Linked DNA regions of Homo sapiens. The protein of the gene in region 2 interacts with the protein of the main gene of each other region in a pairwise test. Each region holds a gene or a part of one and is shown on either strand. Other genes may lie near its edges.

What was found.
Region 1: the proteins of BIN3 (region 2) and DNMBP interact in binary tests that used the Homo sapiens proteins (3 or more experiments, as listed by UniProt).

The regions. Positions count from the first base shown.
Region 1 is NC_000010.11:99,879,575-99,889,004, reverse strand, and holds part of DNMBP (dynamin-binding protein), read left to right. Parts: intron 1-51; coding exon 52-180; intron 181-2,372; coding exon 2,373-2,705; intron 2,706-3,138; coding exon 3,139-3,318; intron 3,319-4,795; coding exon 4,796-4,994; intron 4,995-7,804; exon of another isoform or gene 7,805-7,902; intron 7,903-8,643; coding exon 8,644-9,194; intron 9,195-9,430. UniProt on the Homo sapiens protein: Plays a critical role as a guanine nucleotide exchange factor (GEF) for CDC42 in several intracellular processes associated with the actin and microtubule cytoskeleton.
Region 2 is NC_000008.11:22,664,806-22,674,047, forward strand, and holds the start of BIN3 (bridging integrator 3), read right to left. Parts: upstream 4,317-9,242; 5' UTR 4,247-4,316; coding exon 4,239-4,246; intron 1-4,238. UniProt on the Homo sapiens protein: Involved in cytokinesis and septation where it has a role in the localization of F-actin.

The DNA.
Region 1 (9,430 bases), on a different chromosome or scaffold from region 2:
AGCTGGAAAGTTCTGTCTGTTCTGACTTGTGTCTGTCCTAACTGGCTCCAGGAGTCCGCATGTGTGAAAGTGGTGGCTGCTGTGAGCATGTGGGATGTGTGCATGGAGAGAGGACACCGGGACCTGGAGCAGTTTGAGAGGGTGCATCGCTACATCAGTGACCAGCTCTTCACAAACTTTGTAAGTAACTTTTTCTTCAAAAGTTGGCCCCCTTCCCAGGGTCATCTCAAATACATCAGCTCATGCAAGTCAGTTCCACGGACACAGGCCCTGGGCACCAGGCATATTAGTCATCCTTTAGCTATATTCATATTGGGGTTTGATATTCACAACATGACTTTCAGTTAGTTAAAGGGAGATGTAGGACCTGTGTCTGTACAAACAGGTTTTTTAAAAAATAGCTTGTGATTAATTTAGTTTCAGAGGACAAAGGAAAACTAGGCAATGAACTCTGATCAAATAAAAGCAACTATAGGAATAATAACTTGAAGAGGGTCCAGGCACAGTGGCTCATGCCTGTAATCCTAGCACTTTGAGAGGCAGAGGCAGGCAGATCCCTTGAGGTCAGGAGTTCAAGACCAGCCTGGCCAAGGTGGTGAAACCCTGCCACTACTAAAAATACAAAAATTAGCAGGGCATGGTGGTGGGCACCTGTAATCCCAGGTACTCAGGAGGCCGAGGCTGGAGAATAGCTTGAACCCAGGAGGAGGAGGTTGCAATGAACCAAGATAGCACCACTGTACTCCAGCCTGGGCAACAGAGCAAGACTCTGCCTCAAAACAAAAACAAACAAACAAACAAAAAAAAAACCTTGAAGACAAATATTTAGGAATATAGTTAATATGTTACCAAAGAGATTTGAGATGGTAAAAACTACTTTAAGTCCGGGCATGGTGGCTCACGCCTCTAATCCCAGCATTTTGGGAGGCCGAGGTGGGCGGATCACCTGAGGTTGGGAGTTGAGACCAGCCTGACCAACATGGAGAAACCCTGTCTCTACTAAAAATACAAAATTAGCCAGGTGTGGTGGCGCACACCTGTAATCCCAGCTACTCGGGAGGCTGAGGCAGGAGAATTGCTTGAACCTGGAAGGTGGAGGTCATGGTGAGCCGAGATCATGCCATTGTACTCCAGCCTGGGCAACAAGAGCGAAACTCTGTCTCAAAAAAAAATTGCTTGAAGTACTGAAGACCAAATTTCTTGAGAAATTCTAAATCCATATATATGGGATTGTTTAATCCCTTGTAGAAAAAACTGGATGGGGTTTGATAGTTTTGTAGGGATCTATAAGTGGCCTGAGGGTGAAAAAGACATGCCCACCTGGGGAGCTGACAGGTGTTCTAATTGTACATTATTTTTAATAAGATGCTACTAAGTACTACTAAGTACCTGTTTATGTTCTTTATGTATTCATTGCCTTACCCTTAATGTCTGTGTGTTAGAAAGAATTAAAGAGAAAAATTTATAATTTTTGTTTTGAGATGGAGTCTCACTCTGTCACCCAGGCTGGAGTGCAGTGGCACAATCTCTGCTCACTGCAACCTCTGCCTCCCAGGTTCAAGCGATTCTCCTGCCTCAGCCTCCCAAGGAGCTGGGACTACAGGCATGCACCACCATACCTGCCTAATTTTTGTATTTTTAGTAGAGACGGGGTTTTGCCAGGCTGGTCTCAAACTTCTGACCTCAAGTGGTCTGCCCACCTTGGCCTCCCAAAGTGCTGGGATTATGGGCATGAGCCACCGTTCCCAACCAAGAGAAAAATTCTTTGGAAGATAAAAATGGGGGCTGTGTGCGGTGGCTGACTCCTGTAATCCCAACTTCTTGGGAGGCTGAGGCTGCAGTGAGCTGAGATTGCGCCACTGCACTCCAGCCTGGGTGACAGAGCAAGACTCCGTCTCAAAAAAAAAAAAATGGGTATTACCTAGTTATGATTAAAGGTTTATGAGTGTATGAAAGTTATTCCACCTCAGATTTATGTAACAACTAACTCTGGAGTTAAATTCAAGCTATGTAGACATGTACACATAATAAATGTTACCAGGTAAACTTCACGGCTGGTTTCTAATGCACACATCATATCAGTGTGCAGCTTAGCATTTATCACCTCAAGGAGGTCAAGTGAGATTAGTGTATTTTACATACTCCTTGATGTGGGAATTGAAGGTATCTAGTGAGAAGTCTTGTGGAGTATTTAAGTAGAGGCTAGTGATGGGTTAGTAGAATACTGTTGTAGATCTGTATGGGTTTAGCTTGTGTACTAGAAACGAAGTAGGTGGTTCAGGACACAACAAAGTCAGCCTTAAGAGTGACTTGGATAATCACAAATGTGGGATGCTGTCCAGCTGAGCAATGTGCCTTTCTCGTCCCTACAGAAGGAGAGGACAGAGCGGCTTGTCATCTCCCCCTTAAATCAGTTACTGAGCATGTTTACAGGGCCCCATAAGCTGGTACAGAAACGCTTTGACAAGCTCCTGGACTTCTATAACTGTACAGAACGGGCAGAAAAGCTAAAGGACAAGAAGACCCTGGAGGAGCTGCAGTCGGCCCGGAACAACTATGAGGCCCTGAATGCACAGCTGCTGGATGAGCTGCCCAAGTTCCACCAGTACGCCCAGGGCCTCTTCACCAACTGTGTCCACGGCTATGCTGAAGCCCACTGTGACTTTGTGCACCAGGCTCTGGAGCAATTAAAGCCACTGCTTTCGGTGAGTTTCTTACCTGTTCAGTGGGATGGTCATCTATAGCCTTTGCCTGGTATTTTTCTGGGAAAAATGGTAGCATGGTTTGAAAAATTATCTGAATTAGATAAACTGAATGTGTCGCTAGTTCATCCCTCAGGAAATCTTAATCCCTTGATGGTGTCATGAAGCCTGTGGCTTCTGAAACATCTTTTCCCTCTTGAGCAGTTCCCAGAAGAGCCAGCCAACCTGGCCCGCAGGCAGTGCCCTGGAGAACTTGTGTCTTGCATCAGGCTGCTGTGTCGGTAGCTCAGAGAATGAGCTGCAGCTGAACTTTAGCTTCCAGTGGTTCTAAGGAGACTGTCAATCCGGGATCTTTCATCATGTTTTCTTCTTTTCTCTGGGATCTTTTATCGTGTTTTCTTCTTTTCTCTATCTCTGCTCTTCCCATGGACCCCAGTTACTCAAAGTGGCTGGCAGAGAGGGAAACCTTATTGCCATCTTCCACGAAGAGCACAGCAGAGTTCTGCAGCAACTCCAGGTTTTTACCTTCTTCCCGGAGTCTCTTCCAGCTACCAAGAAGCCATTTGAGAGGAAAACCATTGACCGCCAGTCTGCTCGAAAGCCACTCCTGGGCCTGGTGAGTAGGGAACTGAGAGCAGCAGCCCCGCCTCGGGGTAAAGAGGGGGAACCCTGCAGCCAGGCCCCCAGGCCCAGATCCCACTATTGGAGTTTCTGTATTTCATAATAAATGGAGAATAGTGTTGCATTCTCACCCATCATGGGCTCATGCATTCGCCATTTTTTTTTTTGAGACAGAGTCTCATCTCATTCTGTTGCCAGGCTGGAGTGCAGTGGTGTGATCTTGGCTCACTACAACCTGCGCCTTCTGGGTTCAAGTGAATTCTCCTGCTTCAGCCTCCCAAGTAGCTGGGACTACAGGCACACGCCACTACGCCCAGCTAATTTTTCTATTTTTTAGTAGAGATGGGGTTTTACCATGTTGGCCAGGGTGGTCTCGATCTCTTGACCTTGTGATCTGTCCGCCTCAGCCTCCCAAAGTGCTGGGATTACAGGCATGAGCCACCATCCCCAGGCTTTTTTTGTGGGGGGGAGGGGATTAACCCAGTATTAATTCATTGGTTCATTAATTCAGGAAACTGATTTAAGGGTATATTAATTCTGCCAGGCCTATTTTTTATGATGTATTCATAAAAGTAATACAGCTAAACAGTTAATGGTTGGCTGCCTTTTTTACCTGGAGTTAGTCTTTTTTAACCTCAGTTCTTCCATATTTTAAAAATTAGCATAAGGCACACCAGCTAGAGGACTGCTGATACATCTTTGCTTACAATATTTTTGCCCCATATGATCCCATAGACATTAATTTATATTACCTTAAAAGGGAGAATTATGATTTTTTGAGACAGAGCCTTGCTCTGTCACCCAGGCTGGAATGCAGTGGTCTGATCTTGGCTCACTGCATCCTCCACCCTCCCAGGTTCAAGTGATTCTCCTGCCTCAGCCTCTTGAGTAGCTGGGATTACAGGCATGCGTTACCATGCCTGTATTGTATTTTTAGTAGAGACAGGGTTTCGCTATGTTGACCAGACTGGTCTCCAAGTCCTGGCCTCAAGTGATCTGCCCACCTTGGCCTCCCAAAGTGCTGGGATTACAGGTGTGAGCAACCATGCCCAGCCTGAATTTATTATTACCTTTTTTCTTATGACTTCCTTGCTTTCACAGGTGGGGAAGTCAAGATAGATGAACCTAACCGAGAATGTCCCTAACAAAATACAAGAAGACCTACTAATATCACTTAGATATTTTGATTTTTTTTAAGTGGCATTTTAATCACGTTTGTCACAAGAAAACAAATGTAAGAATAGGTGTGTGTTAAATTTTCTTAACTATAAAGGCATCAAACATTGCCTAAGGGCTCTTGATTTTTACCTAGCCACATGGGCTGGCTTCATCACAAAAACATCTGATGGGAGTGAGATGGGCAGTGACTGACTGTCCCTGCCTCATTTCTGAGACTGGCCACATGTTGGGATGAAATATGGCTGCTGGGGTAGTGGCCACTGAGAGATTTTTGTTAACGTCTTACCTTTCAGCCAAGTTACATGCTACAGTCAGAAGAACTCCGGGCCTCCCTCCTGGCCAGGTATCCCCCTGAAAAACTCTTCCAGGCAGAACGGAACTTCAATGCTGCTCAAGACTTGGATGTCTCACTTTTGGAAGGTGACCTGGTGGGTGTGATTAAGAAAAAAGACCCCATGGGCAGCCAGAACCGCTGGCTGATTGACAATGGAGGTAAGAATTTTAAGCAGCAGAGGACTGTAACTGGAAAAAAAAAATAGTAGTTTTGGCTGCACCCGAATCTGGACTAGGCCAGGAAAAAAAAGCAAAAAGTATCTTTGATTAAGGGGAAAAATAACCTGAAAAATAACCTTAACCTTCTCTAGAGAGTGAAGATCATTACTGAAACAAAACCTCTTTTTGTTTTGACAAATTCCAGAGGAGACACCGTTGCTTATCATGCAAGCTCTTGCCATATCTTACAGCACTTACAGGCAGGAAGTCCTGCCTCACGGAATCCTGTTCCTTCTTAGCCTGTTCCCAGTATGCCACAAAATAAGCTGCCCTCTTTTCAAATTTTTTTTTTTTTTTTTTTTTTTTTTTTTTGTGGCAGTCTTGCTCTGTTATCCAGGCTGGAGTGCAGTGGCACAATCATAGCTTATTACTCCTGGGTTCAAGGGATCCTCCTGTCCTAGCTGGGACTACAGGTATGCCATCATGCCCAGCTAATTTTTTAATAATTTTATAGATATTACGTCTTGCCATGTTGTCCAGGCTGGTCTCCAACTTCTAGGCTCAAGCCGTCCTCCTGCCTGGACCTCCTAAAATGCTGGGATTATAGGTGTGAGCCACCGCACCCAGCACCTCTTCCAGTTTCCATGAATTTGTCTTGTGGAAATTAAAAACCTGTGGGATTTCATTTGCTTTCTTCTCCCCATGACAGTTTTACCTCATGACTATTTAGGGAATTACTTTAAAAACAGCTTACAACTTTTTTGGAGGGAGAGTGATTTACAGAATTTAAGTAAGTGTACAAGGGATAATACTGATCTGTAATCCCTTTTTCCAAAATCCAAAAAGCTCTAAAAACACTTTTGCCAAAACCTGAATGAAGGTGATGTGAGACTATTTATAATTGTAACTTATCCTTTTGGTGTGAATAGTCATGTGTATGTATTTTTCATTTTTATTATTTTTTAAGACAGGGTCTAGCTCTGTCACCCAGGCTAGAGTGCAGCAGCACGATCTCAGCTCACTGCAACCTCTGCCTTCAAGCGATTCTCCTGCCTCAGCCTCACAAGTAGCACGCACCACCACACCTGGCTAACTGTTTGTATTTTTTGTAGAGACGGGGTTTCACCATGTTGACCAGGCTGGTCTCCAACTCCTAACCTCAGGTGTTCCATCCCGCCTTGACCTTCCAAAGTGCCAGGATTACAAGCATGAGCCACGGCACCTGGCCTTATTTTTTTTTAAATGCTTGATTGCAATCTGATTCAGCCAAGAGGTTGCTCACATCATGGGTGGATGACTACATCTCCAACATGAATGACACAAAAACATCAGAACTTTCCTATTTGCAATTATGTGAGATACTTTAAGTTTTAGTTTATAACTGACACATACTTGTTCATATCTATGGGGTACGGTGCGATAATTTTGAGATAGGGTCTAGCTTTGTCACCCAGGCTGGATTGTAGGGGCACAATCTTGGCTCACTGCAGCCTCCACCTCCCAGGCTCAAGCAATCCTCCTGTCTCGGCCTCCTGAGTAGCTGGGACCAGAGGCATGCGTGACCATGCCCAGTTAATTTTATTTTAGTAGAGACAGTCTCCCTGTGTTGCCCAGGCTATAAACTTGTCATTTCTTTGCAGAGATATCATTCAGAATCCTTGGCTTCTAGCCATCTTGAAATATACATTATCATTAGCTATAGTAACCTTACTGTGCAATAGAACACCAGAGCTTATTTCTCCTAACTTTGTACCTGTTGAGCAACCTCTCCCCAGACTCACCTCCCCTTCCACCACCCCCAGCCTCTGGTATCTAGCATTCTACTCTCAACCTCTATGAGATCAACTTGTCTAGATTCCACGTGAATGAGATTATATGGTATTTGTCTTTCTGCGCCTGGCTCATTTCACTTAACGTGTCCTCCAGGTTCAACCATGTGGCCGCAAATGACAGGATCTCATTCTGAATATTCATTAACAGAATTGATTACGGGGTGCTGACCCTGCTGGGGGGTTTTACAAAATATGTAGTATGGGTACTTGACTACCTTCCCAGAATTAAAAAGAATCTGAATTCCAAAACATATCTGGCCCTAAGCATTTTAGGTAGGGATTGTGGTCCCTATCTAGACAGACATTATGTATTCACCACCCAGAACTGAAAAATGTCACATTTCTTGGTTTCTTTAAAAGCATCTTGTGGATTTTTTTTCTCCCCACTTCTGCTTACACAGAACGAGAGATTAAAAGTGGGACACGAAGGACAGAGGATGGAGCCTGTTAGGGTGACATCAGGTGACAGCTACTGCTGGGGTCAGAGACAGATGGACCTAAAGTCCCAAGCTGTTTAAGAAACTGCTCCATCCTTCAGTTTTTATCTACTCAAACTTGAGAAGTGGTAGCAGGAAGCCACAGTATTCAGATCAGCTGTCAGGTACAGGAAATGCATCAAAGATCAATAGAGTAATGGCCATTGTTCTCATGGAGGCTACATACTCTGGGTCTGTGCCTTGACAGTGTTATGAAAAATTGTCACGTGGATGCTCACGCAATCCCTAATTTATACTTGAGTTTTAGCTGAAAGCCCCCTTGGTCATCTTGGGCAATTTATTAAAGTGAACCATGTGCAGTACACGTTACGTGTATATTCTAACAAACAGTTTCCTACGTTAGAACATCCTTCCAGTATATCCAGACTCTCAGAGCAAAGGATTCACGTGTCCTGGTGGGAAAGAGGGCAGGGAGGTCTATGGAGGGGCTTCTTGAGCTGAGGCTTTTTTTTTGAGACGGAGTTTCGTTCTTGTTGCCCAGGTTGGAGTGCAATGGCATGGTCTTGGCTCACTGCAACATCTGGCTCCTGGGTTCAAGCGATTCTCCTGCCTTAGCCTCCTGAGTAGCTGGGATTACAGGTGCGCACCACCACATCCGGCTAATATTTTCGTATTTTTAATAGAGACGGGGCTTCACCATGTTGGCCAGGCTGGTTGTGAACTCCTGACCTCTGGTGATCTGCCCTCCTCAGCCACCCAAAGTGCCTGGATTACAGGTATGAGCCACTGTACCCAGTTTGTTTTGTTTTGTTTCAAATAGAGATGAAGTCTCGCTGTGTTGACCAGGGAACTGGGCTCAAGCAATCCTCTCATCTCAGCTTCCCAAAGAGCTAGGATTACAGGCGTGAGCTCCCGTGCGCTGCCGAGGCTGGTTCTTAACTCGGTCTTTTCCACACTTGCTGTATTTGAACATAGGCTTCATCAAGCCTTCCTCTTAGGCATGATCTCAGTGTCCTATGACATTCTCTTCCCATGCCGGTTCCCAGACATGGATTGTTTTCATTGCTGTCTTCTCAGTTGGCCATGGGCCTCCTGAGCATGCATCTGTTGTGAGGTTGTGAACATGAATGAACCGGCAGGCAGCTGCGGCTCTTCATCTCTACCTACACACATCACATCCTGGGACTGAGTGTTCCAAGCCGCTTTGTCACTAGGCATTTTATTTTGTGTCTCTCACTATTGGCCTGGCTTTTGAGTTTTTGTTTTACTCTTCATTTTACAGATGAATAACCTAGATCAGTTTTTTTTCTCTCAATGCTCCCTCTGTCTGTCCAGCCTTCTGCTAAGAGTTCTTGTTTATATTTCCTGTTTCCTTTGTAGTCACCAAAGGCTTCGTGTACAGCTCTTTCCTAAAGCCCTACAATCCTCGCCGCAGCCACTCCGATGCCTCCGTGGGTAGCCACTCCTCCACAGAGTCTGAGCACGGCAGCTCCTCCCCCAGGTTCCCACGCCAGAACAGCGGCAGCACCCTGACCTTCAACCCCAGCAGCATGGCTGTATCCTTTACCTCGGGGTCTTGCCAGAAGCAGCCTCAAGATGCATCTCCTCCGCCAAAAGAATGTGACCAAGGAACTCTCAGTGCATCCCTAAATCCGAGTAATTCAGAGAGTAGTCCTTCCAGATGCCCTTCAGACCCAGACTCCACCTCCCAGCCAAGGTCAGGGGACTCTGCAGATGTAGCTAGAGATGTAAAGCAACCCACTGCCACGCCGAGGAGCTACCGGAACTTCAGGCATCCAGAAATAGTTGGCTACTCCGTACCAGGACGAAATGGGCAAAGTCAAGACCTCGTCAAAGGATGTGCAAGAACAGCCCAGGCTCCGGAAGACAGAAGTACAGAGCCAGATGGCAGTGAGGCAGAAGGCAACCAGGTGAGTGCGTAAGAGGCCTGCCACTGTGGCACAGGCGGCAGCAGATGTGTTGTGGGTACCAGCGGGGGTGAGGCAGAAGTGGCTTGCCTGAGGCCTAGGGGTGATCTGAGATGAGCTCACAGACACACCTTTCAAGCACACAAGGAATCTCTGCCATCAGAGCCTTCTGAGCACCTTCCCCTGCTGATACTTCACAGGCTATTCCTGGACCCCTCTGTGTCACTGGGTGTTTAAAA
Region 2 (9,242 bases):
GGGAAAGCCATCTGAAAAGTTAGAAGCACTCTACACATGTGAGACAGCAACGGTAATCATAGGGGAAAGGACTTCACTGAGAAAAAAACTGAATAATGGTTTTGTTTGACCCAGAAGTTTACCTTCTTTATATTCCATTCATTTAACAATTACCTGTTAGATACCCACTATGTGCATGATACCCACTATGCGTACAAAAAGATGAAGAAGCTCTATGTCGCTCCTGTTCTCATGGGGTTGGTGTGGAAGGGAGGTGTACGTCTGTGATACTCAGAAGGATGCAGAAGTGCTACAGGAGAAGCACTATGGAAGTACAGAAGAAACCCAGCAAAGCACTTTGGAGTGGAGGATCAGAAGGAGTGGGGAGGAGAAATCACAGGCAGCCTGACCTGGAAGCCACTTGTGTCGGTCAATTTAACAATAGTACTTTCAGAGGCTCTTCATTTTAGGAAGTGGTTTGTAGGTTCTGCAAGTTTTTATCTTAACATTTTTCCTGAGCTGAGGCAAGTCAGGAAAAGGGAAAAAAGGCCCCATTCATATATTTAATAAACACTTCCTGACTGCCAGGAACAGTGCTAGGGAATAGCAATGACCACAAGACAGTCCCCATACTCAAGAACTCACAGACAAGTAAACCAGCCAGCGGAGTACAGATGCTGATGAAGGTCAGAAGAGCGGCACCCAGTGCAGCATGGCAGGGTGTGAGGGGCCACTCAGGGAAGACCCTCAGAGAAGGTGAAGCGTGGCCTGACTCTTGAAGGATGAGTAGATGCTGGCCTAGTGGACAGGGTGTGAGTGAAGGGGAAACATTTCAGGCAGAAGGGACAGTTATCCAGAGGCACATGGGCACGAGAGAGCAGGAGAAGCTTGGAGGATGGAACACACGGAGTGAAGATGGACAGCCAGGCCCAGAGGGCCTCAGAAGCCCTGGCCCAGAGTTGGGCCTCTATCCTGAAGATGATGGCAAGGGACTACAGGGTGAAAACAGGAAAGAAACAAAAAGGATCAAACATGAGGAACACCAAAGTGTGAAGGGCAGACAGAGGTAGAAGACCCCGGAAGAGTCAGAAAAATATCACTCCACTCATTTCACAGCAGGCTCAGGTGGCAAATTGTCAGCAGGAATGGCCACTCCATGCTACAGATGGAGAAACTAAGACAGAGAACAGCTCAATGCTTGACCAGGCCGCACTGTGAGTGGCTGAGCCAGAACCTGAACGCAGCACTCTAACTCCTACTCACACTTACCTGCTCTGCCTCTAATTTCCTTCCTTTTTGTCAAACTACTGGACCCCTAGGTATAGGGAGATTTCTTCCAGTACTCCCTTTTCCTCCTCGTTTAAGCCTAAAATCATCAAGGTGTATGGTTCAACAGGAGGCTACAATTCCTGGAGCCAGCTTAGATTGAGGTCACTATTCTTAATTCTACTTAATCCTCTCTCCATACCATAATAAAGCCACCTGAGTATACACTGGAAGATGGGGAAGAGAGACAGGAAGGGGAAAAGGGAGACAAGAGGGAGACAGAAATAGGGAGGGAGGGGGTGAGTGGGGAGGAGAGGAGAGAAAGTTGGGAGGGGGGCAAATGGCGGGGGGAGGTGGGGTGGACAATGGGAGAGAAAAAGAGAGCGAGAGAGAGAGAAGCATTTGGCTTGAGGCCAAGAAGTGAATCTGTGATCTGAGATGTGAATATCAAATGCCTTCTTCCTAGTAGGACAGACCACCGGGTCACTTTTCTGAAAGGCAGATGGGTGTATGGGGAGTGGATGGGTAGATGGTGCAGGAAGGCAGCAGGTACCCACTAAACAAACAGGGGGTGGGCGGGTTGCCTGCACAGAGGAAGCAGAGAACAAAGGCCTCTCACTCTTCATGCAAAGTCCACAGTGTGCAAAGGGCATCAATATTGGACATTTCTCACTGTGACATTTTGAAAGCTCAGCCTAGCCCAGAACAATGGTTACCCTCTGGGGACCATGGGCCATGTGCCTTATTTAATGATGGCTTGGCACAGCCCATGTACTTGGTGAACTTGACCTTGGGCATCAGCCTCCCATGATGGCTCTACGTCACTCTGGTCTCTTCCCCTAATGAGAATTCCAGTCTCACATGAATGGATGGATTCATTCTGGGGGCAGGAAAACCACTCAGGGAGTGAATCAGAAGGACCCAGCCCCGGTCTCCTTGCCAGCCATTGAGCTAGGAACTGAGTGTGATTGTGTGCCCAGGCGCCGGTGCTGTTCCCGTCTTTGAGAGACAGGGTCAGGGTCCACGCAAGAGATGACGTAGAAGCCCTTTAAGGGGGAAGAGAAAGGAATCTCAGCTTTGAGGGACAAAGCCACCCTTCTGGCTGTGACTCTCAGTCCAAGGAGATACCAAGATGTGCATGTACTGGTAAATTAAAGCTACTAGATGAAAATCTCAGCTCTTGTTAGACAGTTGTCAATCTCAATTCTCTCCAACCTGACAGGATAACCTTTAAGGAATGGGCTACTATTTTTTCAGAAGGGAAACTTTCTGTGAGACAGGTGGAAACAACCTGCTTCGGATCACCCAGAGAATCATTTACCTTTATTAGTTTCTGCTGTGCTCTTCTCCCAACTTGTGAAGGAAAGATTGGTTCAGTAAAGGCCAATCTAGGCAATATAAAGCATCTGTACTGCCTCATTTTCACTTTGAAAAATTAGGTAAGAACACTCCAAAGATTCAAGACGCAGCAGCCAAAAGGATATCTATATTGCAAGACTGGGGGGCCCAGAATGACACTGAAAGGACGTAATTCCTCTGGGAAAGGGAACTGAAGAATTGCCGCTTTGCCCACCACTAACTAGGTTATAACAAGACAGGGAAGGTAGCTTTTTAAGGCTCCAGCCCCTTATTGGCCTCCTGGAGCAAATGGTGGAGGGAAAAGCAGAAGCTCCTGCCGGGGCTTATTAGGACATTGCTTCAGGCTTTCCTCCCGTGCTTGCGGTGATTGTCTGACATTTGTCCATCAATCTTGGTCTAAGAAACAGGTGGGGGAGGGGACAGATGGTTCGCATTTTACTTTAGAGAAGTATCCCTGACACTGACTGATATCAGCTGCTTGCGTTCTCCACTGATGGCCAAAATTAAGCTTCAAAAGCCTTCCTGAAGGACATTCTGTTATCTTAATTCATTCATAACTGGTTATCATGCGCTTTGCATAAACAAACACACTAGCCTCTGAGGACAGAGTGGCAAATATGTTCCCTATGTCCATGGGCTGATTAATCTTGTACATCTCTGGGGCTCAATTTATTCACACACTATAGTTGAATCCCCTGAGGTCCAGGGTTGTGGCTATATAGGTCCTTGGGCCTGACGGTAAGGTAAGGTGCTGCATATGAGTATTCTCTAACCTCTAAGAAAGCCCCAGGAAGGCAGGCAAGTCACAATTCTCTCCTGTGAACATAAATAATCGAGAGCAACAAATGGGGATTGCCTTTTGGGCAAACTGAGTCTTACAAAATAAATACACCATTATGAAGTGTCTACTATGACCCAAGTATCACATCATACTGCAGCAACTGGAATTGTGACTCTATTACTCTAAGACTCCCTGGCTTCTTTTCTCATGGCATGATAGTTCCCATAAGTTTAAACTTAACCATGCCTATTTAGAGGGCAGGCAGTGAGTAATAGCTCTGGAATGATTAAAACCAGTCCAATCCCACAGTGGAAGGGTGTGTGCGGAGTGTAATTCTGGCCCCTTTAAAAAGAGAAGCAAGTTTTCCTTGTCTTTTGAAGCCTGCTAAGTCGTGCAAAGAGGATAGTTACCCAGAAGGGAGTGGGTTTTGATTAGTGAACTGGGTCCAGGCTGCCACAGCGAGGGCCACAGCTCTGGAGGGACTGGCGCGGGGCAGAGATGCCCACAGGAGAGAAAGACGACACTGACTCCACCTCAATGGGTGTTTAAAAAAGGAGGGAACAAGGAAGTCCCTCACTTCAAGGAGCTAGGAGGACGCGAGTCCGGCAAAACGGGTCAGACGCGGAGTCCCAGGCTAAGAGGATCATCCGCCACTCTCCCCGGGAGTCCTGCTGAGAGACTGCGACTCCGGAAAGCACCGAGGGAACGACCCTAGGGCAGGGGCTGTCGGGCCTTGCTCTGGGGCGGAGGGGTCGCGCGGGACCGGAGGGAGCCGGGACGCGGCACTGACACAGGGCCAGGGGCCTCGCGGGTCCGCGGGTCCAGCAGCTCCCGCCGCCTGGGCCTCACTCACCAGCTCATGGTCCCGAACCTGCGTCTGCCGCCGGGGTCCTCAGCCACAACTCGTTTCTCTAGGGTCACTTCCGGATTCAACCAGTCTCCAGGAAGTGACGTAAGCCCGCCTCTCTGCCCGGAAGAGGCGGTTGGGAGGCGGAGCCCGGCGCGTTAACCCTTCTGCTGCTGCGTGCTCGCCGCGGAGTTTCCCTTGCCGGCGACTCTCTGGCTCTGGCCAAGCGCTTAGACACACAGGCTGCAACGGGGGATGAGGGGAACCTCTGGGGGCGTTTTCTGCCTTCAACACTGACTCCTAAAGATCTCTTCACCTGACCATGCAGGGCCCTTAGCCGGGCTGTCCCCTCTGTCAAGTGGTTTCTAATCCAGAGACAGTGGCAGCAATTGTCTGTGGGAGAAGAAGCCATTTGGGATGGAGAAAGTGGAAAACTTACATTCTCTGAATGCTCTTTCCTATCTTTTACAGTTTGTACACCACACATGCATTACCTGTTACAAACAAACGGACGTTTCCCTTCCAAGATGGCACAGGGCTCTGAATATCAATAGATAGGTGCTTTTCAGGTTGGAATGTTTCCTAGAGTTATTCAACACAATAAGACGCAGAGTATGAGTTGTTCCCTGCCTTTCAGCCCTTCCCTTTGGTCTCCTCTACAGGACTCAAATGATGTAAATTGCCCCATTCGTTCTATTCCTTCATTTAACTAATACTAGTTGCACTAATATTAGTGTCAGGTACCGAGCCAACCTTAGGATACAGCTATCTCAGAGAAGTATCTGCCCTGCTCTTGTTCCTTCCCAGAGCTACTTTCCTGGAGGGAGAGACAAGCAGGCAATTATAATCATGCTATAGGATAGGATAGAATGAGGTGTGGTGGCAGCCTAGAAGGGGACCCTGAAGTAGCACATGGGGTTTTGGGGAAGGCTTCCAGGAGGAGCCAGTGTGTAAGCCAAGCCCTGAAGGCAGAATCGGGGCTAGCCAGGTGAATCTGAGATGAGGGGTGACGAGGCTCCAGGCAGAGGGAACTTACCATGGCTAAGACACAGACAGGACCAAGCAAGCAGCTGACTTGCCTCGGGTCTCCCAAAGTCAGAATTCAGGGCCTTAGTGGCTCACAAGTTGCCTGGGATTCTGGGCCGACTTGGTTTCCTCACCGCTAAGTACCTCCCTGCCTTGGAAGAGAGACAAGAAGGCAGTGAGGCCCGTGCAGGTGCTGCTGGGCCCCCAGTGACCTTCTCTCTAGGAATTCTCCTTCCTCAGATGGACCGGGATTGTTTCAGGGACTGCTTAGGGGGTTGCTAATCAATGACCTAGCGGGAAAAATATGACCAATGACCTAGAGCAGAAGTAGTGTATGATTTGTTTTGACCTCCTAGGGTGGAGTAGAGGGCTTGAGCAGGAGAGGTAGGAGGGTGGGCCACAGGATGCAGTCTCTCATTTGTGTTTTCTGTTTCCATTCTTGAGAGTCCATAGTTTGACTCAATTGACGTTTCCAATGGAGGTTGGATCCCCAAGCACATCATGCAGATCAGCTTCATTACCATGTTGTTCCTCAGGAAACAGGCCAAAATGAGCACAAGAGCAGCCTTGAAGAGTAAAGAGGAAGAGCAGAAGTCACCAAAGGGTAGCCTGGGCAGAGAGTGTGGGTAAAGGGAAAGAGAGAGTCCTTGCTGCTTTGCAGAGAGTGTGACGGATGGAAGGGCTGTTGTGGGTTTAGGAGCCTCCTGGCAGTTAGCACCTGTGAATAGTTTTCCCACCTGCTTCCTCCCTTCCCCATGTTCTGCCTCCCTCAGTTATGCCCCACAGGGATAAATATTTCCAAACGTTTTAGCCTAGGTAACTGCTATATCCTAGTAGAAGTCTGTTTCAGGGCTGGAGGGCAGCAGACACATCCTAGAGGACTAGAATGGATAAGTTCTGGACTACAAGTCTGGAGGAGTCTGCGGCTCTATTTCCAGTTCAACCTTTGACACTATAACTGACCTCAGATAAGTCACATCCCCTTTGTGGCCTTAGTCCCCTCATCTATAAGATGGAGTGGGTAGATCACATCCCAAAGTATCCAACATTGCAAGGTTCCAAGTCAGCTGTCTTGTTGACTCTAGAGGCCCTAGGGAAATAGGAGAATGGGAAAGGCAGGTGAACAGAGGGGCAAGCCCAGAGAAGTGGGCAGGTCTGAGGAACTGGTGATATCTTGGATAAAGCTAAATATGAATTTTTCTGGGGCTGTGCTGTTGACAGGTCACCTCGAAATCTTTAATGCAGCCAGCAGGATCTTTGAGGTTACTAAAAAGAATGGTGTCCTCCCAGGAGTCTGTCTGGAATGTGCCTGCTTGGTCTCCTTACCTGTGGCTCATTCGCTCAGCTAGAGGGGCACTGGGCTGAGGAGGGACAGTCAGGCATCCTGCTATCCTGTGTTCCTCCATGAGCCTGCTGTGCCATGAGGCATTGATCCCTGGGGAGCTGAACATGGAGACACACAAACACTTCCCACTGTTGTGAAAAACTCAGCCTGCAGGGTCGGGAGCTATGTCTTTCTTATTTATAACCAAAGGGACAGCATGATACAGATTGATCCTGCCCCTGCAGGGAAGGAATGGAAAAGAGAAAATTGGGTTTCTAAGTAGAAGCTGAGAGTGGAGGCGCTTTGGGTAGAGGTGGATACTCCTGGTTTCAAGCCTTGTAAATACTGATTCTTCCCCAGAAGTCTGAGCCTGAAGGTAAAAGACTGTTCAGGTGGCAGAGGTCTACTTCTGGGACAAAGCTGTTTACGAGGGGAAAAGCAGCAGCAGAACCTGCTCCACCATCAGCCCCCAACTTTTCCTTGGAGGTTTTTGCTCAGAAGTTGGTAAGCAGGTGCTTCCCACTGACTCTCATCTCTGGGATTGTCATGTCCTGTCTCTCCCAGCCTTTCCCACACAGAAGTCTAGGGCTGGCCCCCGAGTCTTTCACCATGCCAACCTCTTATTAGTGAAGAGTGAGCATTCCCAGAACCTGGACCTGGGCTGTCAGGGACTTCATTATAGCACTGGGCTAAGGCTGAAAAACTGAATGTGATAGGGCCAAATTGGTGGGCTCAGCTCTCTTGGAGCCCTAAAGGTCTTGATTCCTCAGGGAGGCTCCTGCAGATATTCAGACACAGGCCTCAGGTTTCTCTGTGGCCTCACTGCCCCACTTCTCCCTACTCTGTACCTGCTCAGTAGGACGTCTCAGAAAAATAGCTTTCCCAGGGCCTTTGGGGGGCAAGGACATAGGAGGAGGAGCAAGGGTGGGAGAAGAAGGAGGAAATCAGGGTGAGATTTCCAGTGGTGGGAGGCCCACACGGACTGCTCAAAGGTCAGGGTGAAGTGACACATCAGAAGCCAGGACAGCAAGAAGCGAGCAGAACCAGGAACGCCTGTCTGACCCGTGGCTCTGCCTCCAAGTGGCTTGAGGGAGTCTTGTCCCTCCTCTGGGCCTCATTTTCCTTGACTGCAATGGGAAAGGTCCAGGTTAGATCTGGGAGGGCGAATGGATATCATCCCATGTGCCAACTCTGATTGTCTGCTTGGAATGCAGTGTTGAGGATTCTGGGGAATCTGCCATCAGTGGGGAAGTTCTATGATTGATTAGTCATGTCTGCCTTGGACAAGAAAGAGCGATGAGATGGTTTATATTCCACTTTATTGTTATTATTTTTATTATAAGTTAACAATAATTGAGCACTCATGACATGACAGGCACTATTCTCTGCAGTTCACATTTAATCCTTGCCTCAACCCTGTGAGGTGGATACTACCATTATTATCATTTCACAGATGATGGCGCTGAAGTATAGCCATGAAGCAATAGTATAGCTTCATGAAGCAGTGAAGTGGGGTTTCTGACCTGAGCACCCTGGCTTTGATCCTTATGCTTTTGCCACTACAGTTTGCCATTTGACCTCCAACAACCTTTGGTTCTGTCAAGGCACAGTGAGGTCAGAAGCCAGCAGACAGATGGAACCAGGAGAAGCACCGCTACTAAATGGCCAGGTTGTGGGTGGAGGGAGGGCCACCCTATGACCAGGGTGCCAAGCTCAGCCTCATCCTGGGAGCTTTTATATGCTTCCTCCAGTACGGAGAGTGCCAGGCCAGCAGGTGGCAGCACCGGGCAGGGTGACAGGAAAGGGCAGCTCCTCACATGGCATGGACGTCCTTCAGGGATCAGAAGGCCCAGATGCTGGGGAAAGCAAGAACAAATGCGGGTGTGGAGGAAGGATAGCCAAGGACCCAGAGGAGGAGGAGTCCTGGCCTCTGACCTGCAGGAGCTGCCACAGCCAATGCTTTGGTTCCACCCAGCAGTGCAGGCCTCTCAGCTTGCATCTCGTGGTGCCTGCTGTGGGCTTTTTTTTTTTTTTCCTCCACTCTGGGAGAATGACTAACTTTAAGGACTAAAAAAAAAGTGTTTTGATTACACTGCCTTTTTACCAACTGGGAGCATTAGTCACCGTGGATTGCTGCAGATAACGGGGAAGGCAAGCAGCACCCCCTCCTCCCCCTCCTTCTCTCTGATTAGCTCACAGAAACCAGGAGGAGACATGAGTGAGGGAGAGTGCACCAGTAGGGAAAACAATCCCCCCGGGTTGATATGTTCCCTGGGCATCAGGCCAAGGGCTGTCCAGGCTGGGCTGCCCCCTGACAGGTAGGCTCTAAGATGGCCCCAGACCCACAATAGGAGGTACCCACTGGAGAGAACTGGCAGTAGGACCACTGAGTCCAAGGCTCCTGAGATTCTGAGTTGGGTCTGGATGGTCTGTTCCTCCAGGTAGCTCCAGGGCACACCCAGAAGGGGAAGTCAGAGGAAGTCACTGAAGACACAGCTCCTGAGCTGGGGCTCAGGATGTCTGTGATGTGGAGCTCATGCCAGGCTGTGGTATGGCTAAGGCCGCTGCCTTGAGCTGGGGCCCTCATGGCTCTACCTGGGGTTGAGACATTCCTGGCAGGTGAGGTTGGTGCTCATGCCCCACTCCCCACCCTTTGGCCT